Linked DNA regions of Homo sapiens: all the other regions are linked to region 5. Evidence: fine-mapped expression QTL. A gene starts in region 5. Each other region holds a variant in brackets. All regions are shown on one strand. Distances are from middle to middle. Region 1 overlaps XCL1 (X-C motif chemokine ligand 1). Region 2 overlaps NME7 (NME/NM23 family member 7). Region 3 overlaps ATP1B1 (ATPase Na+/K+ transporting subunit beta 1). Region 4 overlaps LINC00970 (long intergenic non-protein coding RNA 970). Region 5 holds the start of ATP1B1 (ATPase Na+/K+ transporting subunit beta 1).

Evidence for each region. PIP is the estimated chance that this variant, and not a neighbour inherited with it, causes the effect.
Region 1: its variant is fine-mapped to the expression of ATP1B1 in whole blood (TOPMed, PIP above 0.99).
Region 2: its variant is fine-mapped to the expression of ATP1B1 in monocytes (TOPMed, PIP 0.90).
Region 3: its variant is fine-mapped to the expression of ATP1B1 in whole blood (INTERVAL, PIP above 0.99).
Region 4: its variant is fine-mapped to the expression of ATP1B1 in transverse colon (CEDAR, PIP 0.95).

Annotation. Positions count from the first base shown.
Region 1 is chr1:168,578,340-168,584,437 of GRCh38, reverse strand. XCL1 (X-C motif chemokine ligand 1) reads right to left here. Exons shown (of 3, transcript NM_002995.3): 2 at 4,261-4,375; 3 at 2,369-3,386. The coding sequence ends at 3,218. It also overlaps the pseudogene RPL7AP21. Among named protein-coding and RNA genes, the nearest start is that of XCL1, 4.8 kb to the right of the region's middle. The variant A/G (reference allele first, on the strand shown) is at 3,040.
Region 2 is chr1:169,326,351-169,332,465 of GRCh38, reverse strand. All of the region lies in intron 1 of NME7 (NME/NM23 family member 7), which reads left to right. Among named protein-coding and RNA genes, the nearest start is that of NME7, 38 kb to the left of the region's middle. The variant T/G (reference allele first, on the strand shown) is at 3,281.
Region 3 is chr1:169,127,300-169,133,252 of GRCh38, reverse strand. It overlaps ATP1B1 (ATPase Na+/K+ transporting subunit beta 1), which reads right to left. Exons shown (of 6, transcript NM_001677.4): 4 at 5,845-5,953; 5 at 3,163-3,243; 6 at 534-1,961. The coding sequence ends at 1,698. NME7 (NME/NM23 family member 7) reads left to right here. Exons shown (of 12, transcript NM_013330.5): 12 at 436-722. The coding sequence ends at 468. Among named protein-coding and RNA genes, the nearest start is that of ATP1B1, 24 kb to the right of the region's middle. The variant G/A (reference allele first, on the strand shown) is at 3,757.
Region 4 is chr1:169,070,204-169,075,732 of GRCh38, reverse strand. The region is part of intron 1 of LINC00970 (long intergenic non-protein coding RNA 970); the gene reads left to right. Among named protein-coding and RNA genes, the nearest start is that of LINC00970, 14 kb to the left of the region's middle. The variant T/G (reference allele first, on the strand shown) is at 1,910.
Region 5 is chr1:169,102,810-169,108,889 of GRCh38, reverse strand. It overlaps ATP1B1 (ATPase Na+/K+ transporting subunit beta 1), which reads right to left and starts at 2,200. Exons shown (of 6, transcript NM_001677.4): 1 at 1,964-2,200. The coding sequence starts at 2,060. It overlaps LOC101928596 (a long non-coding RNA gene), which reads right to left and starts at 4,766. Exons shown (of 2, transcript NR_135799.1): 1 at 4,397-4,766; 2 at 3,983-4,180. RefSeq lists enhancers at 1,491-2,063, 2,064-2,636, 2,425-2,719, 3,210-3,783 and a silencer at 2,233-3,152.

The sequences.
Region 1 (6,098 bases), 520 kb after region 5:
TAGTACTTATCACAAAAATGTATTGGAAGGCTATGATGTCCCAGGCACAAGTACATAGACATCAAATTCATAGTCCTTAACCTACTTCTAAGTAAGACAGAAAATAAAGTCAAATAAAATGGTATTTCAGGATGATATAAGCAGTAACAGAGATGAGCCCAGGGGCTGAGCAGGTACATGGGGGTGATGGGGCTCATCTAGACTGGTGACATCAGAAAGGTCTCCAAGGGAAGTCAAGCCCTGAGCTGGGCCATTTGGAACATCCAAATGGGAATGGCTTTGATGACTGTCATGAGCATCAGGACAGCAGGCTAGATCCTGTTCCCATGTGCTCTGCAGGTGCTCAGCAAATATTCAGGACATTGAATACATTAGAAAAGGCTTGGTCTGTGGATCTCTGAAACTCCACTGATACAACCCAGCCTCCTTCTTCCTCTGGGTGGTTGGCTCCAATTGTGTTCTCACTGATCCAACTTTAGCTTAGCCAAAGAATAATGAAAGTAATAAGGTGATTTCCAGGAATGCTATTTTCTCCCATCCAAGCCCTGGCTCTCTACAGCCAAGGAAATTGGTGAAAGGAGTCACTGGCCCAAGGTGTTCGGCATGCACAACTGAGCCACAGCGTGAGTCACACAGTCATGCATAACTAATGTGCTCCCTGGCTAAGCAGTAAAGGCCCATGAAGTAAAGGTAAAAGGTGTTGCACCACGCCAGGCCAAGTTCAGAAGTCACGAGGTCCAGAGCCCCCTCCCAATTGGCTTCCTGACTCCTATCTTGTTCTCTACGCTCCATCTTCCACCTGGCAGCTGATGTCATTTCCCACAGCCTTTAAAACGAAGTACATGCTCTTTGGTCTGGCAGACAAGGCCCTTCATAGTATCTGCTCTGCCTCCCTGACCTCACCTTTTGCACCCACTTCCTAACCCCCGCACTGTCCCTCGGTCATATTAAACTACTTGCCTTTCCTTAATTCATCAGGATTCCTCTTACCTGCAGGCCTTTGCCTGTGATGCTTGTTCTCTTTGCCTAGAATGCACTGAAACCTTCAGCATAACTCTAAATCTTCTTTCCGGTCTCAAGTTAGAGGATATTTTCAAGGGGAAGCTCATCTTTACCCTCCATTCATGCTAAGATCTGGATAGGTTTGCTCCTGTGTGTCCAAAGCTCACACCCTCTGCTTTCTCCATCATCCCACATATTACACTGCATTGAAATCGTTTGCTTACTTGTGTGTCTCCCCAGTGTAAACCCCCAGAAGATAAACACCTGAAGGTTTCACCATTGCATTCCAGTGCCCAGCCAAGCATCTGGAATCCATTAGGCATGCAATAACAATGTATTGGTGGAGTGAGTTCCTGGGGAAGGGAAGCAAGAAAGATTTTCCCAGAATGTAAGCTCTAAGAAAGCAGTGACTTTGTCCTGTTCACTCTGCTGTGTCTTCAGTTTCTGGCATATAATAAACGTTCAGTAAACATTTATTGAACGAATGAATGAATGAAGTCTGTAGGTTAAATAAGGATAACCCCTGAATCATCTCTTTACATATGGTTTGGCCCGAAGGGAATTGTCTTCTGAAGTGAGAAAGACAGCGTGACACAGTTGTCAACACCCTGAATCTTGCATGAGTTCAGATCTAAACTCTACCCCTCACAGACCAAGGGACCTTCAGAAAGTTAACTAACCCTTTTATGCCTCCGTTGTCTTGTCTTTAATTGAGCTCTGTAATGTGATTAAGTGAGCTCATATTTGTACAGCAAGAAAATAGCTATGGTTATATATTTTAACAACTATTTATTATTTAAAAGATAGAACAGCCATAAAATGAAAAGTCAAGCACTGCCCATATCCTTCCACACATCCTATTATTATTATCCCAAATAAATCCTTAGGGTCTGGGAGACATTTGGCAGACAAACCATTCCATTCATCTTTTGTGACTTTGTTATTTTTCAGCCTTCATGAAGCAGGATGTCTGTTCTTATTAAGGGATTGCTTTCTCTAAGACCACCTCTGAAGTTTATTTTAGACAAATATCAATGAACATGGATAGGTGACCACACCGTTTGCTAGGAGGCAACTTTTTAGTAGTTTCCACTCTGATTCACTAGTTGTATGACTAGAAGTGAGCAGATTTGAACAAGTTGCTTTCATCTACCCTCTGAAAATTCATGATATTGTTAAATGCCCCCACAAGAATAAACAACAGCCAATATTTTTCACTTAAAACTATCAAGGCAAGGTCAGGTCTTCCTATTCAGAGTCTGATAGAAGAGAATGTATACATCGTCAGCTACTTGGATAGTAAAACCCTAAGCATGAAACAAATCAGCAATTTAATTAGCATACAAGACAGCATGAATCTGGGGTGTTGAGTTACCAGATGAGCATTTAATTAAAAGTTTACTGCAAATTGTGATCACATGAGGAAATATTGCATGGGTCAGCATTTGGAGCATTAAAAGCTTATTCGCAGTAAAGCATAACATGCATGATAACTAGCGTAATGGCAAATACAGAAATCCTAATAAGGTAGTGAGATTATTGTCCAATTCAAAGGGTATTGATTTTTACTTGAATAAAGTTTCTTTATACCAAAATTCTAATTTTTGCTAATGGGACAAAAAAGGGACAAGTTGTGTCATTTTATTCCTTTAATAGGACACCAAAATAAAACACAAAGAGGTGAAAAAAATTGAGTGAAGCAAATTTTTGAGTAGTGGACCCTCAGAATGGGAACCCAGTGAAGACTGGATTATTTTCTCCCTTATTCTATAAACAGAATTCTATTATAGAGACAAGTTGAAATACATCTCAAATTGTTGCCATTGTCACAGCTGTAACTTGTGACTGATGTGTAAAGAACCATTACAAGCTGGACTCTAAGAGAGATTGATATAGCTTTCACCTCTGATAGACACTAGCCAGAATCTCTTCCATTATGGTTACCATCAAAGAGAGGTACAAGGTCAGAAATCAAACAACAATGATACACTACCTTTCCCTAAATATAATGAATAGACTAGGGAACTATTCTTAATA[A/G]TAAATAATTTATTAATTAGAACATATAAGTGAATACAGAAGACATTTAAAAGTAAAAATACAAAGGAATAATTTTATTCATGCAGTGCTTTCATAAAAGGTGAGTATAAACTCAGTCCATGAGCGTGTAAAGTGAAATGAGCTGGCTGGCTGGAGACGGACAGGGTGCCAGAGACTACTAGCCAGTCAGAGTCACAGCTGTATTGGTCGATTGCTGGGTTCCTGTTGGCTTGGTCTGGATCATGTTATTTCTGGTGTTGGATTTCCTGTCCATGCTCCTGACCACGTCTCTCACCCATGTGGCTTGTGGATCAGCACAGACTTTTAGGCCACGTTTGGTAATAAAACTGTAACGCAAGGAAAAGACAGACGAAGTTAGCCACATTCTCAAAGCCTCAGGGTCAGGAGTTAAGATCAGGGCAGACATGAAGAGATCTTGTGCAGAAATTACTGCAAGAAATAGTCTTTCAGAGCCATGAGATCATAAATGAGTACCCTTCTTCTGCCATCTATTTTAACATAAAGGAGTAATATCTGCAAGTAGTATCCAGCCCCTTTGTTCACAATAATTCACAGGGTCCTTTTCTCATCCATGTCACCAAATGTTGTAACAAAAAGACTTTGAGGCCAACTAGTTCCATTATTACATAACCTCTTCCTTTTCAAATTTAAAAATATTCATCTTATTTTTTAAATAAAAAGTGATTTTTACATTTTCATTTTTTAGAGTAAAGCTTGCAATTACATGTTGAGAAGAGTTATTACTTCTAAAAATGAGATTCTGGTAGAAGAAAGGGACCATGTAGGTTGTGCATTGACTCATTTTCTTGAAATATGGCAACTGATAAAAGTATGGGACTCTGCCTGACTCAACCCTAAGATCCCCCAACTCCAGTGAGGCTTGCAGGGAAACCCTGACATGGGCCAGTCATCTCTAAACCCAGGTCTCAGAGCTGTGCACAGTATTCAACAGACTCTTCCACTAAGCTAAATAGAGGAGGACTTCTATTCTTTCTTTGGCAGCCCAATTTCTGCAATAATCGCTATTCGGTTGGGCTGCAGAAAGACATGATTGATAAGGAAAACTAAAGAGGTTTTTGGTTAAGTTGAGGTGTTCCTCTATGCTGACCTACTTTTCCTGAGGACGGCAGCATTTCTACAGAGTGTATTTCTATACTTCTAGATACCCACCCAGCACAACTTCTGAGGAGGCAGACTCACATTACTGCTCTCAAGGAGCCTTCCGTGATGGTGTAGGTCTTGATTCTGCTAACCGGCAGTCGCTGGGTAGTGAGGCTCACACAGGTCCTCTTATCTGAGACTTCACTCCCTACACCTGGTGAGGAAAAAAAAACAACAGACAATTAAAAATAAAGCAATTATCCAGATCACAGGAACAATCATCTGTTAAATTACTCTGAGAATGTTGTGAGAATTTAAGGCCATTTGCTTTTTGGGGGAAGAGAGGACTGATAGGCATCCCGAATCTCTTGCCCGTCACAGATTCTTAGTAAATATTTGACTAATTTAAAAACTCAATCAACAGAATTGTTTCAGGAATTTCATGCTGAGAGAAAATAACAAGATGTTATCCCGTCTCTGTGTATATTTTCACTTAGACATTTGGGACGGCTAGCAAATGCCCCAGTGACACGCATTCATTCATTTATACAATGGTGCCTGTTGTGTCCCACATGTTTTACTAAGCAGACATTACTCCTGTTTTCATAGAGCATATCTTCTCATGAGGGAGCCAGGCAGCAGACAGGCAAACAGAAAAGATCATTTCAAATAGTGCAACATGTTACAGTACCATAAGTGAGATGACAGAGTAATGCGTGAAGAGTACTCTAGGCAAGGCAACATTCAGTGAGGGAAGGAAGCATGCTTTTGACAGACTAAATAAAGGTGTTCTCCTTTTTAAATGGTCAAATGTCTCTCTCTGTCAGCTGCCTAAGATGCTGAAAGGAAAGATGGCCAAAGGAAGGAAAGTGGCCCCAGACCCTGCCGTCGTGAGGAAGCAGGAGGCTAAGAAAGTGATGAAACCGCTGTGTGAGAAAAGGCCTAAGAGTTTTCTTAGGCAGGCATTGGACAGGACATCCAGCCCAAAAGGGACCTCCGCTGCTTTGTGAAATGGCCCCGCTATATCTGGTTCCAGCTGCAAAGAGCTATCCTCTATAAGCAGCTGAAAGTGCCTTCTGCCATTAACCAGTTCACCCAAGCCTTAGACCCCCAAACAGCTACTCAGCCACTTAAGCTGATCCACAAGTACTGACCAGAGACAAAGCAAGAGAAGAAGCAGAGACTGTTGGCCCAGGCTGAGAAGAAAGCTGCTAGCAAAGGGGTTGTCCCCACTAGGAAATCACCTGTTCTTTGAGCAGGGGTTAACACTATCACCACCTTGCTGGAAAAGAAGAAGGCTCAGCTGGTATTGCACATGGTGTGGACCCCATCAAGCTGGTTAACTTTCTGTCTGTCCTGTGTCCTAAAATGGGGGGTCCCTTAATGCATTATCAAGGGGTAAGAAGGCAAGACTGGGACATCCAGTCCACAGGAAGCACCACTGTGGCCTTCACACAAGTTAACCAGGAAGACAAAGGAGCTTTGGCTAAGCTGGTGGAAGCTATCAGGACAAATTACAATGACGGATATGATGAGATCTGCAATGTCCCGAGTCCAAAATCTGTGGCTCACAATGCCAAGCTGGAAATAGCAAAGGCAGAGGAACTTGCCACTAAACTGGGTTAAATGTACACTGTTGAGTTTTCTGTACATAAAAATAATAAAAACTCTCCAAAAAATTAATAAATGGTAAAAGGTAAGATATATATAAAAGGAAGTCAGCCCTTAAATATGCATCCCCAATAGTAATGGCCCAAAGGAATTAAACTATTAAGTGTAGAGAATCATCTTACATTGCAAGAGGAAAAATAACTTGGGAGAATTAATACTGTTAAGGGTTGGGTGAAATCTAATCCAAGTTTCTAAGTGCTGATTTTCTCCTTAGCTGTAGACACTGGTCTTTGCTTCCCAGGGAAATAGGCAGCTAAAAAGCATCT
Region 2 (6,115 bases), 220 kb before region 5:
GTCCGTTTTTGCTTTGATTGCCTATGTTTGTGGGGCATTGCTCAAGAAATTTTTGCCCAGACCAATGTCCTAGAGATTTTCTCCCATGTTTTCTTGTAGTAGTTTCATAGTTTGAGGTCTTAGATTTAAGACTTTAATCCATTTTTATTTTATTTTTGTATATGGCTGGAGATAGGGGGTCTAGTTTCATTCTTCTGCATATAGACATCTAGTTTTCCCAGCACCATTTATTAAAGAGGCTGTCTTTTCCCCAGTGTATCTTGTTTGCACTTTTGTTGAAAATGGGTTCGCTGTAGGTGTGTGGATTTTTTCTGGGTTCTCTATTCTGTTCCATTGGTCTATGTGTCTGTTTTTATGTCAGTACCATGATGTTTGGGTTACTATAGCTCTGTAGTATAATTTGAAGTCAGTTAATGTGATTTTTTCAGTTTTGTTCTTTTTGCTTAGGATGGTTTTGGCTATTCTGAGTTTTTTGTGGTTCCATATAAATTCTAGAATTGTTTTTTCTATTTCTATTCTTTGAAGAACGACATTGGTATTTTGATAGGGATTGCATTGAATCTGTAGATTGCTTTAGGTAGTGTGGACATTTTAACAATGTTAATTCTTCCAATTCCATGAACATGGAATAGCTTCCCATTTTTTTTTTGGTCTTTTTCAAATTATTTCATCAGTGTTTCATAGTTTTCATTGTAGAGATCTTCATTTCTTTTGTTAATTCTTAGGTATTTTATTTTATTTGTGGCTATTGTAAATGGGATAACTTTTTAAAATTTCTTTTTAAGATTGTTCACTGTTGGCATATAGAAATACCACTGATATTTGTATGATTTCGTATCCTGCAACTTTACTGAATTTATCAGTTCTAAGAGTCTTTCAGTGGAGTCTTTAGGTTTTTCCAAATATAAAATCATATCATCTGTAAACAAGGATAATTTGACTTCTTCCTTTTCAATTTGGATGCCCTTTATATCTTTCTCTTGTCTGATTGTTCTAGCTAGGACTTCCATTATTATGTTGAACAACAGTAGTGATAATGGGCACCCTCGTCATGTTTCAGATCTCAGAGGAAAGGCTTTTAGTTTTTCCCCATTCAGTATGATACTAGCTGTGGGTCTGTCATATTTGTCAAATATGCTTTTATTATGTTGAGGTATGTTACTTCTATATTCAGTTTTTTGAGAGTTTTCATCATGAAGGTATGTTGAGTTTTATCAAATGCTTTTACAACATCAATGGACATGATTGTATGGTTTTTATCTTTCATTCTTTTGATATCACATATCACATTGATTGATTTGCTTATGTTGAACCATCCTTGCATCCCAGGGATATATCCCACTCGGTCATAATGAATGATCTTTCTAATGTATTGCTGAATTCAGTTTGCTAGTATTTTGTTGACAAGTTTTGCATCAATATTTATCAGAGATATTGACCTGTAGTTTTATTTATTTATTTATTTTGATGTGTCATTGTCTGGTTTTGGTATCAGGGTAATACTGGCCTCGTAGAATGAGTTTGGAAGTAGTCCCTCCTCCTCTATTTTTTGGACTTTTCTTTACTGGGAGTCTTTATTATGGCTTTGATCTCATTACTTGTTATTGGTCTCTTTAGGTTTTGAATTTCTTCCTGGTTCAATCTTGGTAGATTGTATATATCTGGTTATTTTTCTGTTTCTTCTAGAGTTTTCAGTTTATTGGCATATAGTTGCTTGTAGTAGCCACTAAAGATTTTTTTAATTTCTCCAGTAACATTTGTAATGGATTTTATTTATTTATTTATTTAGAGACAGAGTCTTGCTCTGTCACCAGACTGGAGTGCAGTGGTGCGATCTCGGCTCCCTGCAATCTCCTCCTCCCGGGTTCAAGCAATTCTCCTGCCTCAGACTCTCAAATAGCTGGGACTACAGGCGCCTGCCACCATGCCTGGCTAATTTTTGTATTTTTAGTAGAGATGGGGGTTTCACTATGTTGGCCAGGCTGGTCTTGAACTCCTGACCTCGTGATCCTTTTGCCTCAACCTCCCAAAGTGCTGGGATTACAGGTGTGATCCACCACGCCCAGCCATTTTGACTTCTTAGTAGCCATTCTGACTGGTGTGAGATGGTACCACATTGTGGTTTTGATTTGCATTTCTCTATACGCCACAGTTACAGTGTTATAATATCCTGTGTTTTTCTGTGTACTTACTATTACCAGTGAGTTTTTTACCTTCAGGTGATTATTTGTTGCTCATTAATGTCTTTTTCTTTCTGATTGAAGTACTCCCTTTAACATTTCTCATAGAACAGGTCTGGTGTTGATGAAATTTCTCAGCTTCTGTTTGTCTGGGAAAGTCTTTATTTCTCCTTGATGTTTGAAGGATATTTTAACTAAATATACTATTATAGGGTAACAGTCTTTTTTTCCTTCACCACTTTAAATATGTAATGACACTCTCTCCTGGCCTGTAAAGTTCCCATTGAAAAGTCTGTTGCTAGATGTATTGGAGCTCCATTGTTTATTTGCTTCTTTACTCTTGCTGCTTTTAGAATTCTTTCTTTATCCTTGACCTTTGAGAGTTAGATTATTAAATGCCTTGAGGTGGTCTTCTTTGGATTAAATCTGTTTAATGTTTTCTATAATCGTCTTGTATTTGGATATTGATATCTTTCTCTAGGTTTGGGAAGGTCTCTGTTATTAGCCCTTTGAATAAACTTTCTACCCCTATCTCTTTCTCTACTTCTTCTTTAAGACCAATAACTTAGATTTGCCCTTTCCAGCCTATTTCCTAGATCCTATAGGTGTGCTTCATGTTTTTTATTCTTTTTTTGTCTCCTCTGTGTATTTTCAAATAACCTGTCTTCAATCTCACTAATTCTTCTGCTTGATCAATTCTGCCATTAAAGGACTCTGATGCCTTCTTCAGTACGCTTTTTGCATTTTTCAGCTCCAGAATTTCTGCTTGATTCTTTTTAATTATTTCAATCTCATTGTTAAATTTATTTGATGGAATTCTGAATTTCTTCTCTGTGTTATCTTGAATTTCTTGGGTTTCCTTAGCAGAGGTTTTTTTTTTTTTTTTTTTCAGGAAACACAAATTTTCATGAAATTTGAAAATTCAAACCACAGCATGACATTAAGAAAACACAAATATTACTTATCCAGAAGAAAAAGTGTTTTGAACTTTTTCATAAAATATTTAGGAACAAGGAAGTTGAAGCTTGGAGCGGTAGAGTGAGAAATAAGGAATATGTGGGAGAGAAAGTAAAGTGAAAAAAATTAGATCAGATTTTTTT[T/G]TTGTTGTTGTTAGCACTAAACTGGTTTGCTTCAGGCCCCTAGCCAGGGTTGATTTTGAAACCTATAGCAGAGCTATTTTGAATACTCTGTCTGAAAGGTCACATATCTCTGTTTCTTCAGGATTGGTCCCTTGTGCCTTATTTGGTTTATTTGGTAAGTTCATATTTTCCTGGATGATCTTGATACTTGTGGATGTTCATCTGTGTCTGGGCACTGAAAAGTTAGGTATTTACTGTAGTCTGCAATCTTGGCATGTTTGTACCCATCCTTCTTAGGAAGGCTTTACATGTATTTGAAAAGTCTTGGGTATTATGATCTAAGCTATATCTGCTTTAAGGGGCACCCTAAGTCCATTATAAAACTAATGATGAATGTGCAACAGATAGTGTTATAAAATTTAAAAAGAAAATTGTTACTAAAATTTTTATTGACAAAAACAGATCTATAACTGTTTGAACTCCCCAAAAGGTAAGAATTGTACTTTGGCTCTGATTTATTAATATGATATATCCTTTACAAAAAAATTTACCTAGTATTATATGTTCAATAGTTTTTATTTTCATTTATAAATATAATTTTAGTCATTTTTTTGTCCATCATAAATCCCTTTTTCCTTCATACTGATTTTTTTCTGCAAAGACCTTTAAAAAACTATTTACCTAGGGTTAGTTGCAGCTGAGGCTGCATCATCACAAATCCAGAGTTGCTCTTCTTGTATGTCAGAAAAAGATCAGTGAGGGAGATGAGTGTGTACAATGCAGTTCTAAAGTCACAGGTGGACCTATAAGCCACCATCATCGCTTTGGGAGACATAGGCAACAGAAATCCTAAGTGCTTCATGTAAACTAAGTCATTTAATCCCCAAAACTACCTTATGAAGAAAGTACTGTTTCCATTTTTCAAATGGGGAAAATGAGAGTTAGAGACATTAAGTCTTGCCCAGGTCTTTTGGACTCTCACAAATATTCCTCCATAATCCCCCCCTCCAAAAAACCCCTTTATAGTTTCCTGGATCTTCTCTTTAAGCAACACATTTCAGGGCCATGTCTCTTGCTGTAGGCTGCCAGCAAATGATAGCAGCAGTAGCACCAGCAGCAGCAGACTTATCAGATTGGTGTGCTCGTTGCACTCAGCATGCTAGTAGTACCAGGCCCAGTTGGTATTTGTTGATTGATGATCATAGTATCATCAGGAATGGAATAGCTTTCTGATCAGTATTATTGAAATGAGGCCAAGGTACAATTTTGCTTGGTAACATACGCTTAAACTTACTCTTGAACTGAGAGTTTGGATTTTTTAAAGTATATCTGTATGGAAAAGATTGTTAATTTCATATGATCCACTGTAAAGCTGGACCTTCCTTTAAACAGTAGCAGAGAGAGGTGGTGGTGTGATTTATTTCTCCAAAGACTTGTTTAATCTTCAAATATAATTTCACTTGCAATTCCAATATTGGTCAATATTTCCATAAAATCACCTATTTTTTGTTATAAAACTTATATGAATTTTACATTCCACTCAATAACATATATTTATATACACATATATGCATGTTGCAGTGTAAAAATTGTTTACGTTACTTACCATCGAGTAAGACTGGTGCTCTAGGAAAGTTCTCTCTGTATAGACAGAGACCTTAAGACTTTAAGATACTAAGGCTTCTGGGTATAATAATACCACATTGTCCAGTTCAAGTCACTTCAAGACTTCTGGTATAATAATACACATTTTCCTTTAAGACTTTAAGATTTCTGGAACAAAGTGTGATTATGTGTGAGGGATCAACTCTTTTATTATGTATAACTTATATTTAAAATGTTCAAAAGAGGAAAAATGATTTGGCTTCTTTAAGAAAGTCTCTTTTTGATGCAGTGTAATCTTTAAATGTTCCTCATAAAGTACTTTTGATAGAAGTTGGAATCTTCAGGGAAGAAGGAGCTAATGATTGTCTGTGTAATCATTAGGTTGTGGCATTCTCATCAGAGCATCTGTGACAGACAACTCAAGGTGTATCTATGTGCTACTAAAGTGTTAGTTTCTCTCTCTTGAGTTGGCCCTGGAAGGCTAGTGATATGGAAATATCTGAGTCATAGGAAATGTAGTTTCCAGTTTTGGCTCAGTTATTAACCAGCTCTGTGACCTTATGCTAGTCATTTATATTATCTGGAGTTCAGTTTCTTTATCCATAAAGTGAAGAGTTAAAACAAAATGATATATAGCTTTAATAGCATTTGAGGAAGGAAACCAAGTTCCTCCTTTTTTCTAGATTTGGCTCAACAAAGCTGAAAAGTAAATTTTCTTTAAATTTTAAGGGTGGCTTTGGTCTGGATGGTGTGTGTATGTGCATGTGTGTCAGGCAGGTAGTTGAAAGGCCAACCTCACTGTGATGTTTTATCCCAAGTCCAGATGTACCACTGTTATATCTCCAGGTACATCTTTTAACTCTAGGAAGTAAACACAGTTTTTACTGTAAAGGTAAACCAGAAAGTTAAGTTTAAATCAAGTTTGAATATAATTTGTACTTGGAGTAATAAACCTTTTCCCACAGAGGAAACAGCACTAGCTTGGGAGTTCGTTTCCAAAAGCTCTACTGAACAAGCACAGGTTTCAGCTCACTTTTGTACCTGTTTCTCTGTCCCTTGGTGGGCTCCCTCTACCAGCTTCTTAGGCTTCTCAGTCACTTGTCTGCTTGACTTGAGACTCAGCACATGTCTTACGAGTAAAGACAACGCAATGAATGTTGGTTTCACTTCAATGGGCTTCCTGTCTTTCTGGATCTTGGATCCTCAGATCCTGGCTGCCTTAAAAGCTCTCCAAATCTTTGATATCCTACT
Region 3 (5,953 bases), 24 kb before region 5:
AAGCTTTTTTATCTTCTTTCACACTAAGGCTAATTTTTAAATACAGCTAAATAAGGACTTAGGCCAATCCCTGAACCAAAAAGCAAGGTATGAACCTTAATTTACTGAACCACAAACCTAACCTCATTTTTTAAAAACTGAAGTGCTAACAACTTTTTTTTTTAACACATATGTCTAGTGAAGCAATAGCAGGAACCAACACTTCATGTTTTCTAAACTGAGTGAAGTAGCAGTAGCACTGCAAGATGATTTTTTTAAATGGAACTTCAAACTGGAGCTTCATCGATTCTCTGCCTCTGATTGATTGATTAACTTTTAGTGTCTTTGGGAAGGGGTATGCCAGTGTCTGAAGTCCTGACCAACCTCTTGGACTCTGTTAAGTGGAAAAGACCAAAATTTGTCTGAACTAAGAAATTATGTGTTTCTCCGTTTCAGGTTCAATACTTCTTCAAGATCTTGGATAATTAGTGGTGTGGAAAGTAAAGAAGTCACAGGTTGGGACATTTAGACAAGAGTGAATCACACACGAGGAATGTGTTCATTCTTTTATTGTCCGTTGTTTTAACCTGACTGAATACAAGATCAACAAGAGCACTGTACTCCTGGCAATTATTACATATGTTAGAACATGGATTTTGCACTGTAGACAACATTTAACACCAGTCTATGGGGTACTGCATTGCTTTTTATAAAGTTCAAAATAAAGATTTATTTTCAAACAAGTGACTTTGGTTTATTTCATACATTACACTTTTTCTTGCAGAAAAAAATAAAATTGTACAACTGCATAAATATAAAATTCTTCCACCATGAAAATGGTTAAAACATTCATAAAGACACAGCACCAGCATGTGATGCCTCCAGAAAGGAAAAAAGGAAAGTAAAAGAAAATGTATAAAGCAAATTAATTAGCCCTGTCACTAGCCAAAGTGATGGGCAGATCCAGATCTCAGACACAGCTTTAGAACATACCGGAGGACAAGGCAAGAGATGTCAAGACAGCATTCAATACAAGCATAACACAACCCATCACCTTTTTGTGTTTTTCTGTAGTGTCACTTAAAATTTAAAGGGCAGTTCCCCCATGACAAACCCCCACCCCAGCCCCCAGGAAAAAAATAAAAATAAAGACCTAACACCACAGGAAAAGACTATGGAGTATGTTAAAAATGCTCATCGATGGGCCATTACCTTTGAAAGAGCCAAAAAACAAAAAAAAAAAAAAAAAAAAAATTACCATGCCAGTTTTATTCCCGTTGAATATTTACACCTTGGACAGCAAACCTTGCTCACATAAAGTAGAAAACAGATACAATAAAACATGGCTTGAAAAATGACCAGAGTATGCACCTGTAGTACTGTACACTAAATAAAATACACAAGGCAGCAATACTTAGGGGCCAGAAACACTGCTTACTACAAGTCAGTTACGGAATCATAATTTACAGTAAAAATGGGCACGTCCCAAGGCTCAATTTTTCTTTTTCTTTTGTCATTTACAGTAGAATAAATATTTTGTTGCTATTGCTACACTTTAATTTACATTCTAACCTATTAAATGCAGAAAGCTAGTGTAAAGCATATAGATTAAGTGTAGGTCCCATACGTATGACAGTTTGTTCAAGACTAGTAGGTTTTTGTTTTTGTATCTTTTTTTAACTTATTAAATGGCTAGTGGGAAAGATTTGTGCTTGTGATCAGCTCTTAACTTCAATTTTTACATCAAAACGTCCCTGAAAACGGTCTTTCTCACTGTACCCAATGTTCTCACCGTACGCCTTACACTCTATGCGAATTTCAGTGTCCATGGTAAGATTGGTGAACTGTACGGCCAGCAGGGGCTGCAGGTATTTGGGCTGCAGGAGTTTGCCATAGTACGGATAATACTGCAGAGGAAAACCAGGGGAGTTGCCCAGTCCAAAATACTCCACATTTCCAACTTTATCCTTATCTTCATCTCGCTGAAATCCAGAATGAAATGAAATTTTAATGGCTCACATCATGCATCACTATGTGTACTCAAAAACAAGACTCAATCTACACAGTAGTTTGCAAACTACTGAGAGAGGAAAGAACATCTACTCAGTCTATTCCATTGCAGCCTTGAGAAATGGTCATAAGAAGAGACTATTCTCAATGTGCAAATGGATGGGGAAGCTGAGTCAAATGCCAAATAAGCATTCTTCAAGCCTCCTAGAAACAAGGCCAACATTGAAAGGCAGAAACACCTTGCTGTTGGCCCAGTAAATAATCTGTCTAGTGATATTATCTCCAAAGTTTACTACTTGCCTCTCATTTTCTTGTTGAGAAATCAATCTCCACTTCCTTGCTTGGTGCTAGCACTGTCTGGGAACTCCCTTTCTTTGTTCTGCCTTTCTCTCTAAACGGTCCATTAGTTTTTGGATCCAAAGGAAACATGCACTAATTGTTACCTTAGTCTTTCAATTTTTTTTTTTTTTTTTTTTTTTTTTTTGAGATAGTCTTGCTCTGTCCCCAGGCTGGAGTGCAATGGCGTGATCTCAGCTCACTGCAACCTCCGCCTCCCAGGTCCAAGCGATTCTCCTGCCTCAGGTCCTCAGCTGGGATTACAGGCACGCGCCGCCACGCCCAGCTAATTTTTGTATGTGTAGTAGAGACAGGGTTTCACCATGTTGGCCAGGCTGGTCTCAAACTCTTGACCTCATTATCTGCCCATCTCGGCCTCCCAAAGTGCTAGGATTACAGGCGTGAGCCACTGCACCAGGCGATATTTCAATATTTTTAAAAGAGAAGCCCAAACCACTAATTTTTATGTGACATTAATTTTTTTTTAATGTTGGCCCCAAATTTTTAATACATGCTGTGGGCCAGAAAGTACTTCTGTGGGCTAATTCACCTCTCAGTTCTGATAAGCAAATATCCCAATGTATTAAATTCAGATATTTGAGTTTCTTATGCCAGTGGAGAAACTGACATCAGTCTTATTCTGATTACATCTTTCTGTTCTTTTAAAAAGTTTTACCTAGTATAGCTACAATTCATCTCACTGAGACTTATACTTGAAAGCAATGTTTCTTATTTCTTCTATTAAAATTCTACCTGTCACTTAAACAGTCTTCTTCATTCTCCCCTCTTCCTCTGCCTACCCTTCCACCACCCCAGTAACCCTAAATTTGTCTTTACCTTGCCAGTGCACTGAACGGGAAGGACATTTGGGTTATACTTCATCACTGGGTAAGTCTCCAAGGACTCATTCTTGGGAGGCTAAAAATAAAACCCATTATGATCAGTAGATTGTAAATGATTTCTTAAGTTTCTGAAAAATAAAACTACTCCGTAGTCCAAACAAGTACACACTGGTCACAGTAAGTCAACCAAAATAACAAAAGACATCAGGACAGCAGAATGAATGACTCCCCTAACCAATTTAAGGTCATGTTTGTGATTTTGCTGAAATGAAAATAAGTGCCCAAGTTTATAACGACTACAATTAAGCTGTGATGCAAACCAGTACTAAATGGAACTTTTAATAGTAGCCCATTATAAGCTTTGCTTAAAGACACTGAAAACTAAGTCAACCCAAAATATAATGCTCGTTATTTGCTAAGATTAGATTACATGAGAAAGATGATTGACATTTCTGTTTTTATAAAGCGTGGGCTTTCCTCCTGAGTCATGAATAAATAATGTCATCCTTTTCCCTCAAGCATGACTTCAAGTAGGCTTTCCTTTTTTGTTGTTTTAATCTCCAGTCGGGGAGACTGCCATTTAAGGAGC[G/A]TTTCTTTGCAATTTTCTTAGGAAAGTCCAATATGTAAAAAAGGCAGAGGTGTCACTGCCCTAAGAGGAAGGGTGGTCTTGAAGGGGTGAATCCACTGAAGGGACCCAGAGGACAGTCTGAAAATTACTGCTGTCATGAAATATCCAGAGCCTCCTCTTCTACACCCATGGCTCAAATCTATCTCAGAAGTGTGATGAACATACTTCGCTGGAAGACAGTCACTTGCTTACTCAGATCAGCACAGCAAGTGAGTCTTGATGTGAGATGTAACACATACATAGTCTAATCAAAGTCAGATAAAATATTAGTTCCACATCAGGAAGGAACTACTATTTTGCTACTACTCTGTTTTGGATGCAAGAAAATGATCGTCTAGATTTGACTCTTTGGGACGTTTCTGCCAGCAATGTATTTGTCTTTAAAAATATGTAGAGAAAATGCTCACTAAGAAGTTGCCAGAATCTATCCTCCAATGGTGAGGATAGTGAGATGCTGGGATACTCTGATCTCTGACAAAAATAACTCCAAAATAGTTGGAGATTTGGGTGGAGGTGATGAATTAGGCAGTGGCAATGGATAACCAAGTAGAGACCAAAGAAAAAAGAAAAAAAGGACTGAAAAGAAAGAGTAGCTGAATTTATCACTGAACCAAGTAACTCTAAAGATGTGGGAAGAAATCAATCACAATAGACTAGACTGCCTCTGTGGGGTCCAAATGTCATTCAGTGTCTACGATGAGTAATGTCAAAAGCAAGGTACTCAGAAAGTATGGGATGAGTCTTCTCTTGGCCATGCCACAACAATTTCTTTTGCTGCTAAATAGCTGATTGATCTCAGTGAAGTATTCCCCAGCAATATGAATATCAAATACATTTTGGCATAATGGTTCTCACCGTTTTTCTTCCATTATATCCTGTCTATGTGGAAAGAAGCTTAAAATCCTTTTGAGAGGTACATTAATTTCTGCCAGCAGTCCATCAAACTAGCCAGCCAGGCAACCATCCATCCCCACCTACTCATTTTTGCCTCTGATGGCAATAAAGGAACTTTGATGCATCCTTCAGTTAACAAAACTTTTTATCTCTGTGTTGATTTTCTTTTGAAAATATTATTCATGGGTAACAAGCATTGTAGAAATAAATTAATAGCATTCAATAGAAAATTAATGAACAAAAGTGCCAGATTTCAGAAATGAAATGAGTTTGTTCACATAACTCAATATACTGCAGTCAATTTCTATCAAAATTAGAAACAACACTCATAATGCCAACGCTCATATACGGGTGATTAGGGGGAAACCTGCCAGAAGAAGCCAGGCTTAAGGGGAAAGGACAGCATTAATTCATGATCTGGAGGAGAGGATGAAATGACCAGCTTTACAAAAGCAGACAACAACGATAAATTTTCCATTCTTATGGAGAATATAATCTCACCAAATGGTGAGCAATGGCAATTTGCTCATTTTTCAGTGATCCAGAGTAATGTTTATCCATTATAAGTTGCAGTAATACAAAAAGCCAACAGCATGGCTAGCAAAATTCAGCCTAGATGATGTTAAACTTCTACTTCCGCAATAAAATTCAGAAAAAATATTTTTTCAGATTATCAATTTTTTTGAAATGTTCCTGTGGCTTCCAGAGGACCAAAACTGGACTATACATGCAAGTGGGTTAAAATTTTTTTTTTAATCCATTCTTTATGAAGTAAAAAATAAAAAACTTTTTTTTTTCTCTAACCACTAGACCACCAGGGAAAAAATATATTTTTCCATTTTTACTTTTTTAAAGAGTTTATGTTATAGAAACTGTTATCTGGATACTGAGCAGGAGTATTAAGAAAAGGGCCACAGACTCACTTCAGAATGCAGCTTTGCCTCTCAGAATTCCTTTAACTTTAGAAAATGAGATTAATGTCCTAACTACAAGAATTGCAGGGTGGATACAGAAGTTTTTGGTGTTACTCTACTGGCTACGTTTCAAAGTCAGCACTGAGTATACTTTAAAACTATCTTACATTGTCTTCTCAGATCAATTAAGTACTTAGTGTAAATGACTCATCTAAATTCTATCATTTAAAATATTACTTGCCTTAGGTTTGAAGCCTAGAACTCGGTTGAGCTTTATAATAATGCACGGTTTGCCCTCTTTGTAGCCATAAGTTTCATCATTTAATCCAGAGCAATTTCCCAGCCATTCA
Region 4 (5,529 bases), 33 kb after region 5:
CTCACTCTCCACTCCAGAAGCAGCCACTGATTATTTATATCACTGTAGATTCTAGAATTTCATATAAATGGAACCATATATGCTTTCATTCAATATAATCTTTTTGAGACATCCAAGTTATTCCAGATATCAGGAATTTGTTACCTTTTTATTGCTATTACTGTATTGTATGAATATATAACAGTTCGTTCATCCTGTTGCTGAATATCTGGATTATTTCTAATTTTAGCTATGATGAATAAAGCTGCTATGAACATTCTTGAACAAGGCTTTTTGTAGACATATATATATATATATATTTGATAAATAGCCAGGACTGGAATTGCTGGGTCACAGGGTAGATGTGCATTTTAACTTTTTTTTTTTTTTTTTTTTGAGATGGAGACTTGCTCTGTCACCCAGGCTGGAGTACAGTGGCACGGTTTTGCCTCACTGCGACCTCCACCTCCCATATTCAAGCGATTCTCCTGCCTCAGCTTCCTGAGTAGCTAGGATTACAGGCATGTACCACCATGCCTGGCTAATTTTTTTGTACTTTTATTTAACAGAGACGGGCTTTCACCATGTTGGCCAGGCCTGTAATCCCAGCACTTTGGGAGGCTGAGGTGGGTGGATCACTTGAAGTCAGGAGTTCGAGACCAGCCTGCCCAACATGGTGAAACCCCATCTCTACTAAAAATACAAAAATTAGCCAGGTATGGTGGTGGGCACCTGTAATCCCAACTACTTGGGAAGCTGAGGCAAGAGAATTACTTGAACCTGGGAGGTGGAGGTTGTAGTGAGCTGAGATCATGCCACTGCGCTCCAGCCTGGGCAACAGAGTGAGACCCCATCTAAAAAAAAAATAAAACAAAACAAAATAAAATAAAGCGGTTATACTAATTTCCACATTGGTCAGAGTCCCATTTATTGTACATCCTCTCCAATATACATGTTGTAAATCTTTTTCATTTTAGAAATTCTAGTGGGTATATAGTGGGATTTCATTGTGTGAGGTTTTTTTTTTTTTTTTTTTTTGAGACAGGGTCTTGCTTTGTCGCCCAGGCTGGAGTGCAGTGGTTCAATCTCAGCTCACTGCAACCTCCTCCTCCTGGATTCAAGAAACTCTCAGCCTCCCAAGTAACTGAGATTACAAGTGTGCGCCACCACACCCAGCTCATTTTTTGTATTTTTTGTAGAGGTGGGGTTTCACCATGTTGACCATGCTGGTCTCGAACTCCTGGCCTCAAGTGATTTGCCTGCCTTGGCCTCCCAAAGTGCTGAGATTACAGGTGTGAGCCACTGTACCTGGCCTTCATTGTGGTTTTACATTATCTTCAAAATGGTACTACATTTTTGATTACTTGATTACCAGTGAGGTTGACTAATTTTTATGCATTTATTGGTGATCAGATTTATCTCATTCTCTTCATAAATGGAAATGTCCAAGAAAAGCCACACATGAAATATTTAAAAAGTCAGAAAACACTAGATCTCTTTTAGAATTAGTGTTTAATTTCCAAACTAGTTTTAGATTTCAGGACATGGACCCGTCCTGGCTTTCAGTGTTATCTATGGAAATAATGTTTTCTTCCAAATTTATTGTGCATTCATTAGGGAAAGAACATAAGTTTATCCCCCTTTTTAATTTTTAATTGTTATTATTTAACAAATGAGGCTTAGATAGAGACTCACTTAAGTTATAGAACTAGTTACATAGCCAGTACATTGTATACAAGAGATGCTTTAAAAACTTTTATTGCATAAAGGGATAAATGAATGAATGAGAAATTCAAAGCCTGGGATTCTTTCTGTTGCAACTTCTGTTCTTTTCACTTGTGTTTGGTTTTCTTCCTGTTCTTTCCTTGCTAAGGTTTCAGTAACAAGGTGCTCATGTGGATATTAGGACACTGACTCTTTGTAGTTTGAG[T/G]GTCTTTAGATAGAGTACCTGTGGTTGACAGAAACTGGAGGAAGTTAGAGTCTTAATTACCTTCGTTGTCCTTCTCTTCTATGTATTATTATTTATATTTTGCCATTCGTGCCTGTGTGCTTGTGTGTGTGCATGTGTGTGTGTGTGTGCGTGTGTGTTGTAAGTTGCCCTCAAGCCTTTCTGGAAAGGATCACAGAACAAACAAAACTCAATGCACAAAATATAAAAGAGCTAGCCCTGGCCCTAGAGCAGGAACAATCTGGCCGTGGACAAACAAAACACAATGCACAAGAAATAAAAGGGCTAGCCCTGGCCCTAGAGCAGGAACAATCTGGCCGTGGAGACAGATCCACCCACAGGAAAGCTAAGAGCTCCAGTAGATGCAGGGGTAATCCCAGCACTGAGTGATCCATGCCAGCCAGGGCTTTTGGGGAAGGAATATTGGGAGGTGGACCTTAGGAACAACTAGGATTTAAATAACAAATATTGCAGAAAACGAAGACAATGTAGACATGCAAAAGGAAGAAAATTAATGGGGGTATGTAGGAATAAAATAGGTGAAACAGTAGAGGAAAAAACAAACAGGTGAGCAAATGTTTGTGGTAGGAGAGAAGTGCACACTGATCAGGAGACAATAAAGCTGGGGTGGAGTGGATAATGCACATTACAGAGAGAGGCAGGGCCCAGGCAGAGAAGGGGAGTGGCGGGGTATGGTAAAGTAAGACACTTAAAGGCCAGGCTGTGGAACTGGAGCATTCCACATGGATAATTAGGGACCCCTGGGAATTCTTGAGTAGGGGAGCAATAAGATGAAAACCAGTGTGTTAGCACAATTAATTTGGTAATATTTGGCCAGCTGTCTGGAATCTGGGAGAGACTGAAGAGATTGATTCTGTGATAACTTGGTAGAAAACTTTTCTGTTCTACACCCATTGCTCTGCCTTTCTCTGACAAAATTCTATGACAAAAGAATTATATCACCTTCCTAAGATGTTAATCAAGTTTTTCAGGCTGGACATAGTGTCTCATGTTTGTAATCCGAGCACTTTGGGAGGCTTAGGTGGGCAGATCACTTGAGGTCAGAAGTTTGAGACCAGCCTGGGCAACATGGGGAAACCCTGTCTCTACTAAAAATGCAAAAGGAAAAAAGAGTTAGCTGGGTGTGGTGGTGTGTGCCTGTAGTCCCAGCTACTCAGGAAGCTGAGGTGGGAGAATCTCTTGACCCAGGAGGCAAAGGTTGCAGTGAGCTGAGATTGCACGACTGCACTCCCTCCTGGGTGAGAGAATGAGACTCTGTCTCCCAAAAAAAAAAAAAAAAAAAAAAAAAAAAAAAAAAAAAAAACCCAAAATAAAAAAAGATATTAATCAAGTTTAATCAAGTTTTTCAATATTTTCTTCATATTGCTTGTACTTCATTAAGCACAGTTTTCTCCACAGTTTTGTCTTCTTTAAGAAAATATATTATACAAAAGTCAAACTTAATAGGACAAACTAAGCTGTTGTTATTTTCCATTTGAAAGTATATTTTACTTTATGAATGTCTTAAGTAAGGAGTCCAGCTGAGAGTAGCACTGGACCCATTGTAATTTACAATATCTCTCTTTTTTTTTTTTTTTTTTTGAGATGGAGTCTCTCTCTGTGCCAGGCTGGAGTGCAGTGGCAAGATCTTGGCTCACTGCAACCTCCGCCTCCCGGGTTCAAGTGGTTCTCCTGCCTCAGCCTCCTGAGTAGCTGGGACTACAGGTGTGCGCCATCACTCCCAGCTAAGTTTTGTATTCTTAGTAGAGACAGGGTTTCACCATGTTGGCCAGGATGGTCTCGATCTCTTGACCTCGTGATCTGGCCACCTCGGCTTCCCAAAGTGCTGGGATTACAGGTGTGAGCCACAGCACCCGGCCGTAATTTACAATTTCTATAGGGGGCTATTACACATTTACAGAGCACTTGCATGGACATTATCTCAGGTGATTCCAGAGCTTAATGTTACAGATGAAGAAAATTGATATTTTAATTAGTGTATAGGCTGGGTGCAGGCTATAATCCCAGCACTTTGGGAGGCGAAGGTGGGCGGATCACTTGACGCTGGGAATTCAAGACCAGCCTACGCACTCCATCTCTACTCAAAAATACAAAAAAAACCACACACACAAAAAAACATTAGTTGGGTCTGGAGGCGCACAGCTGTGGTCCCAGCTACTCAGGAGGCTGAGGTGGGAGAATCACTTGAACCCGGGAGGTGGAGCCTTCAGTGAGCCAAGGTTGAGCCACTGCACTCCAGCCTGGGTGACAGAGTGAGACTCCATCTCAAAGAAAAAAAAAAAGAAAGTGAATAATGTTGCCTAAGAACATAAAGCTAGAAAGAGGTGACACAAGGACATTGTTTAAAGTAAAGAGTTAAATTTATCAAAATCAAACAGAAATGTTTCTGGAATTATAAAAGAATCTAATAGAAAAACAAGGTTTAATTTTTAAATATTTAAATCCAGATAATCTCTCAGGAATATAGCTTTTGTGGGATGTGAGCTTCCCTAGAGTATTCTTTGAAATCTAATCTTTTTTTCCTGACTCTTTGTTGAGAATTGCTAAAATATCACCACCACCATCACCACCACCACTGCCATCACCACCACCGCCACCAGGAGCAGCACCACCACCATCCCCTTTTTACCCCAGGCTTATTTCAAATCCCACCACTAATATAATACACCAGCATTTATCAAGTGCTTACTGCGTATGAGGCACTGTAGTAAGCACCTTTCCACATCACTTCATTTATTTCCTACAAAGACCCTGTAACGAAGGCATTATTATGATTATCACTTCCATTTTACAAAATGAAAATGAAGGCTTAGCAAGAGAGAGTATGAACCTTGCCCAAGTTCACACAGCCAAGATGTAGAGGAGCCGGGAATCAAATCCAGCTTTGTCTTCCTGAAGAGTCCCAGCTTTTAACCACTGAGAAGTAAGCCTAAGATATTTCTCTGGTTTCATTTCCTGGGAAGGTCCTGGACACTCTGTCAAGAAGCAGGGAGTATCTTGTTTTTCTTGAGTATCTTCATCTCTGGTGAGTGACAGGCTTGGGCAGCTCAGCCAGCAACCAGTCCTCAGGGGAGAGCTGGTATTTCACTCAGCCTGTTTCTCGTGTTTTTTGTCCTCTTTCTTTTGCCAATATAAGTTAGTGCCAATAAAAGATTATTGGCTTGTGAAGAAGATGCCAAAAAAACTGTATAGGAAAATATCCTCAATAATAATACTCTGTGCTTGGCACATGATATCTGAAAATCTTCAAACATAGTGCAGCCTGCAGGTCCCTGAGTCACACACACATCCCAAAAGACGTTTCATGTGCCAGGGGAAGAAGGTGAAACAGAGATGGCCATTCTCAAAATCTTCCCAAGGCAGTAACATGAGGCTGACCAAGAAGTTATCATTCCTGACCTTACCTTAGTAATAGGCTAAGAGATACAGAAGGCAAAGGTTGGTCCCTGGAGACAGTTTGGAAAGTCTTTTGCTCTACCAAACTCTGCCAAAGCCTGAAACTATGCGAGGTGGTGGCAAAGTAATTAAATGCACAGGTTCTAGACTCAGACTTATTGGCTGAAGCTCAAATAACCAAATAA
Region 5 (6,080 bases):
AAGGGGCAGACATATTAGCACAAAACAAAAAGGGGATTTTTAGCCCAGCACCTGTACCGTGGAACATGGAAGGGAAGAGGAGGCAAGTACAGCAGTCCTGGGTCTACATTCACAAATCAGCATACTGATAGCTTGCTGGATAGGATATCAAGACATAAAAATTGACACACACGGTCTCTCTTTCTCTCTCTCATGGAGGTGCTGCCCATTAAATGTCGGCTTAAAAATGAGTCAGTCCATACTGCCTTACCCTCTAAAGCAAGTATTATTCTGAGAAGCATGAAACTGGAATGAGCAAAGATGCATATTATACTAAGGGGAAAAAGACAAGAAGGCAAATTTCACAATGTGCCTAGAGTCAATGCAGCCCCTGCCCCTGTGACGCAGCAGGGTCAGACCACCAGAGAAGGAAGCCCCAGCTAACCTGGGGAGAAGGGTGCCCATACCGCAGTGCACCTTCCAGGCCTCCCTCAAGTTACAAGGAGTTGCCAGGGAGCTGTTCATTCTACACACACCCCACAGTTCTTCAGGTTTTCCTTTCCACAGTAAAACACAGGAAACTACCTTTATGCCTGAGACACTATGACAATAATCTCAATGAAGAAGTCTCCCCAAAATAAAATATAAAACAAAAGCTAAAAGCCATTAAAGAACTACATTTTCCATGGCTCAGGGATACCTATGCTTCCCAGTAACACCTTGGAAAGACGCTTCACCTTGACTAACCTTGAAGTGTGATGCATTATTAACCCTTTAATTTTCAATCAAGAGAGACTCACAGGCTGCATTTTTTTTTCTTTACAAAAATTCATATATTCCAGCTTCTTCCATTTCAAAATGTCAGCTAAGCACTATTTCCCTGACTCATTCTCCTGCCGATTCCCACAGATCCTCCCAAGCAGGAACACCAATCGGCCTCTGTTCAGGACTCCCTGAATGACTGCAGTGGTGGTGCCAGTGGTGTTGGTGGTGATGGTCATGATGATGATGATGATGATGATGATGTTGGAGGAGGAGGGGGCAGTGATGCAGCAGGGGGAGTTCCCTCCCTCCTTCCCTCACGCAGTCACGACTCATAGATTCGCCTACAACTCTGCCCTTCAAAATGACCTTTTTTTTAAAAAAAAAAAAGTCACCTTTCCGGAGAGGCTGAAAACAAGAAATCTAATTTTCGATGGAAAAAAGTCTATCCAACCAAGCAACAGGCTGCACAAAATATTTTAAGATCAGCTGCTCTGCGTTTATATTCCCTTCACCATAATCAACCCAACCTACTGACTGATCCACAACTGTCTGTGTAGACCTTGAAAACAACCAGACTTTGCCAGGTTTCGGGCCAAAGCTAAGAATCGGAGTCCTGAAATGGAGCTTATTGAACCATTTCTGGGTGGTGATGACTCCAGGGGAGGTCATGGAGGGAAATCCTTAGCCATCGCTGTGAAATACTACAGTGTGGATGGATTCCTCTCCACCCTTCTCTTTCCTCTCTTTTGAGATACGTATTTAGACTAGAAGAAAGATGCTGTAACACACAACCTCGTCTGCATTAGATCCCATCACCTCACGAGGTTCTCTCAAGACCCCAGATCTCATTTTTTTTTTAAGGACTCAGGACACGGGAGAGACAAATGTAGTCTCGCAGAGCCTGACTATTCCCAGGAGTAAAAGGCTCAACCGATGCACGGTAGGAAAGACTGCAAATTACCAAGCCAAGATCGCTACGATATGCATAACCTTCCGCCTGTCGTGTTCCAGCCCCGACCCTGCGCCCCACTCTGGGGACACCGCATTCCGCACAGGACTGCAAGCCCAGGCCGGCGCGACCCAGCAGCGTCCACCACCCTCGCCCCCGCCACCCCGGCCAGCGCGGTGGGTGCGGAACCGGCCGCGGACCCTGCGCAGGGGATGCGCCGCCCGGGAAAGATCAGACGCGGCGGCCGGGAGCTGCGGACCCCGTACTTACACCAACTGCCACCGGTCCTGCCCAGAAACTCCTTCTTCTCTGAGTTCCAGATGAATTTCTTCCAGCTGCCCTCCTCCTTGGCTTTCCCGCGGGCCATGGCGATGGCGGGTCAGCAGCTGCCGCGGTCCGGAGGGTGGGTGGCTGCGGCGCGCGCCCTGGCGTCCTCTGCGCCGCTCGGCTTCTCCGGCCTGGCTCTCTGCAGGCAGGACGCGCCGCTGCCGCTGCGGCTCTCGGAGTGCGAGACGCGCGGCGGAGGAGCCAAGGCAGGAGCAGGAGGAGGGGGAGGCGGCGGCGGCGGCGGCGGCGGGGCGGGGGCGGAGGGAGGGACGGCGCAGGCTGCGCGGCTCCGAGCCCCGCACCTATTGGTGGGCGCGCAGCCGCTCGCGGGCTTTCTTTGGTCCGCCGAGCGCTCCTCTAGCCCTTGGGGGGTCGGGGGCTCCGCGAACCCGTAGCTGCCGCTCCCGCTGCCACTGGGGACGTGTGCTGGGCCCCCGCCTCCCCTGACCTCTGCAGAGACAGGCCCGGGGTAGGAGAGTCAGAGAGGGAAGGACGGACAAGCGGACTGCGGGGCGCCACCGGCACTCCCGCCAGGAGCCGAGGAATTGGCTGCGCCCGCCCTACCTTTACTATATACCGCGCCCCGGCGGCCGTGCGCCCCGCCCTCTAGCGGCCCGGTGGCCAATCGCCGGCGCCAGGGGCAGGGACTCGGCCCGAGAGGGCGGGTTCGGGGCCGGCACAAAGGAGCCGCCGGGGCTAGAGGGGCCGCTTGGATCGCTGGGCGCGGGGCGTTGGGCGCGGGGCGAGGAGGAGGCGGGGGCGGCGGTGAGGGACGCGCAGGCAGCGCCGCGCAGCCCCCTCCCAGCTCCCGGCTGGGCGTGAACCGCCCCTTCCGTGGCTGGGGGATCCGCACCTGGGTCGCCCGGAGCCTCGAGGACCCCAGCCCGGCAGTCCTGGCCCAGCCTCCACGCCTCTGCCTGCCCGCCCGCGCTTTCGGCCTCCCTGGGCTGTGGGTCCACCCCTCCTGGGCGCTGGCGGGGTGGGGGAAGGTCACTCCGGGACGCCGGACTGGCGAGGACTCTGCCCAGCTCCGCCCCGCCTCCCGCTCCTGCACCTGCCGCCCCCTCGCACTCCCCGCCACTGCGGTTGCAGTTCCGGCCCTTCCCTCTTCTTTGCAGGCCAGCCCAGCCGGCAGCCCCGGTTCCTGACTGCCCGGCTGTGCCCCTTGTGGGCGGCCTGAACCACCTCGAGCAGGACAATTGCCAAACCCACCCAGGGCGGTAGCCCGCAGTGAGTTGTCCCGTAGAAACCAATTGAGACTCAGGCCAGTCTAGACCCCAGGCAACAATATCTGCACGTGACCCAGCCACCGAGGACTTTCTTGGTGCCCGGTCGGCGGCGGGTATTCTCATTGGCATGCTTTTATGCCCCCTTGGGGGTATCGATCCCTTTGTTCTGCTGTAAAATTCTTGGAGCCAAAGGACCTTTGGGAAAACCTAGCGCATAGGGCAAGATGTTGCAGACCTGGGGCATAGAGTACCCCTTCCCACTCTTTGTCCGCTGTTGCTGGAAAGCCAAACTCTTGGTTTCATCCCTCTCCTATGAGCCCCCAAGCAGCTTTATACATCCCTCTGAGGACAGTGACACAGCAGAAAACACCGGGATGCTTCTGCTTCCACTGCAGAGAAGCCCTATCCCCAGGGGCCATCATGGCCCATCTTGACGTCCCAGCCCCATATCAGAGAATTCCCCAATACCAGGATGCTTGTCCTTATCCTGGCCACCCTTCTGTCCCCAAGGTCAACCTCGCTGGCATAAAGACAAGCCCGAACTGATTAAGAATGAGCATTTTTCTAATCCTTCTCCAAGCTCGCCTGCAGGACCTGTGCAAACCTAAACATTCCTGAAATTCGGGGGAGAAGCGACCACCTATCCACCAAGCCCCAGTGGGGGAGGCTGCAGGGCTCTGTCAAGGGCATCCGAGAGAGAGAACAGCTTATTGAGAAAGGAAGCCACCTCTCGTTTAGCACCTGTAATGTTTATGTTGGAAAAACCCCAGCTTGGTAGTATGAGAGCTGCAGGAAGATGCTGCACTTGCGGGTATGATGACCCTGGTCCCCTTCAGGCAGAAGTTACCTTATCGAGTAGTTTTCCAGCAGGACAGGTTGCTGGGAAGGGTATGTGTTGTTGAGTGTCCATTACTGTAACAGGAGGGAAAACCTGTAGGCAGAATCAGCAAAAAGAGATGAGTGGGGAAAGGGTAGCATGGGAAGGGATGAGGCGGTTCTGGGAGTTGGTGGTGCCCTTACTTGTGCCCACTCCGTTCCTGTACCTTGATTCCCAACCCCCCTTCCAAAAGAAGCATATGGTAAGACAAAATATATAAAGAGAGTCTCCAGTGACAGATTTTCTTTTTTCCTAAAACAAGTGTCCTACCTTAGCTCTTCAGAGGTGTAGCAAACACCCAGTAGACTGATGCTTGGTCTCTAGTCTTTGATTTACTGTCTTCCACTGGGGAATATCTTCCCCTCTCAAATTTTAGGTCCCTAGCTCTACTCATCCCCCCTTCCCTGCATGGAAACTCTTCACAGGTTCAGATGAAGTCCTGAGGGTCACGTCTGCACAGCCAATGCAGCAGCTCATCCTAAGCCAGCCTCCTCCAGCCTTCCTGAAAACCTCCAGGTTTCCACCCAGTCCTGGGATTGCTGCTGGAAAACATGATCTCAGCCCTATAGGAACCAGATTTATCTCAGTAGCTCATCTCAGACTCCACTTGCCCCGCCACTCTAGACCATCTGGAATTGTACCACTCATCTAACCACTTCATCACACAGAACAAGCTGGTAAAGACCTACATTCACCTTCCCAGCTTCAGAACATGCATGCTAGCTGGGTGACCTTGGGCAAGTCACTTGTTCTCTCCAGGGCTGTTCCCTCAGTCATAAAATTGAAGTGATACATTATTGCAAGGATAAAAGGAGCGATATGGGAAAGTGTTAAGCACAGTGCCTGAGGCATGGCAAGAGCTAAGTAGCTAGCTTAATTATAATCAGCTGTTTCCATTTGACCTTGGCTAACCTTGGGGCTGTTGCTATGACTTTGTCACCTTCCCACTCTGATACCCACCCCATACCAGGACTCTGAGTTCCCATCAGCCCCTAGAAGGTCACCCTGACGCATTCCCCACCCTCTCTGCCACCTTTCCCCTTGCTTTCCAGTGCGCTTCCTGCTGTGTGACCTCCTCCAACTCAAGTAATGAATAACTCAAGTACTTTATGTCCCGTTGGGCTGTGCTGAGCTGGGCTTTTGTTCCAAGGCCCCTTCTGTGAAGGGTGCTGTAGCAGCAGGTTGAAAGCCGAACATGTGTGGTTCTCCAAAGGGAGGGGTGCCCCGGCAGGTGGAGTGTGTGGCTGGGCGTGGAAGAGGGTGTGGACCATGGGGAACTAAGACAACTTTTCAGTCAATGCGTATGGAAACCCAGTGTTTCTCTGCAGAAAGGAGAAAGAAATTATTCAGTTCAGTTTAAAGGCTCAGGAGGAAGAGAACAATTTTTAATCCCTTTTTTCAGTGCAGGCTGGGGAAGAGGCATGGTTCTGGAGTCCTGTGATTGGTTCTGCCCAAGGTTAGTGCTCTGTGGGTGGATGAGGGGAAGCGGAGAGCAGGAATGGCAGGAGAGCGGTGAGAGACCTCCGTCCCAGTGAGGATGACATGTTCTAACTCAGGAAATGAATAGATGCTCTTGCGATTGAAGAAAAATCTACGCTGGAGGCAGACAGGCTGGCAGGTAAAAGCAGGACAGAGCAGTCCTGTTTGTAGCAAGGTGGCCAGTCAGAAGCTGGGCTGGGAGAAGAGGCAGGACAAATCAACCCCTAGCAGTAAGATCCTTCTGTTCAGAGAAGCTAAAGTGAGGGGTGCCTGCAAAAGAGAGGGCGCAACTTGGCAGGCTGCATGAGGTCGAACCAGATTTGAAAAACAGACCTTCCCCTCTCTGCCCCTCCCCAAATATTGGCTCTCTGAATCTCTCTGCCAAACACAATGCAGACTGCTCTTCAGAGGGCTCCGCAGGGCTGAGCTGCCAATCCCACCTTCACACACGTGCTCACTCACAGTGGGGTTCTGT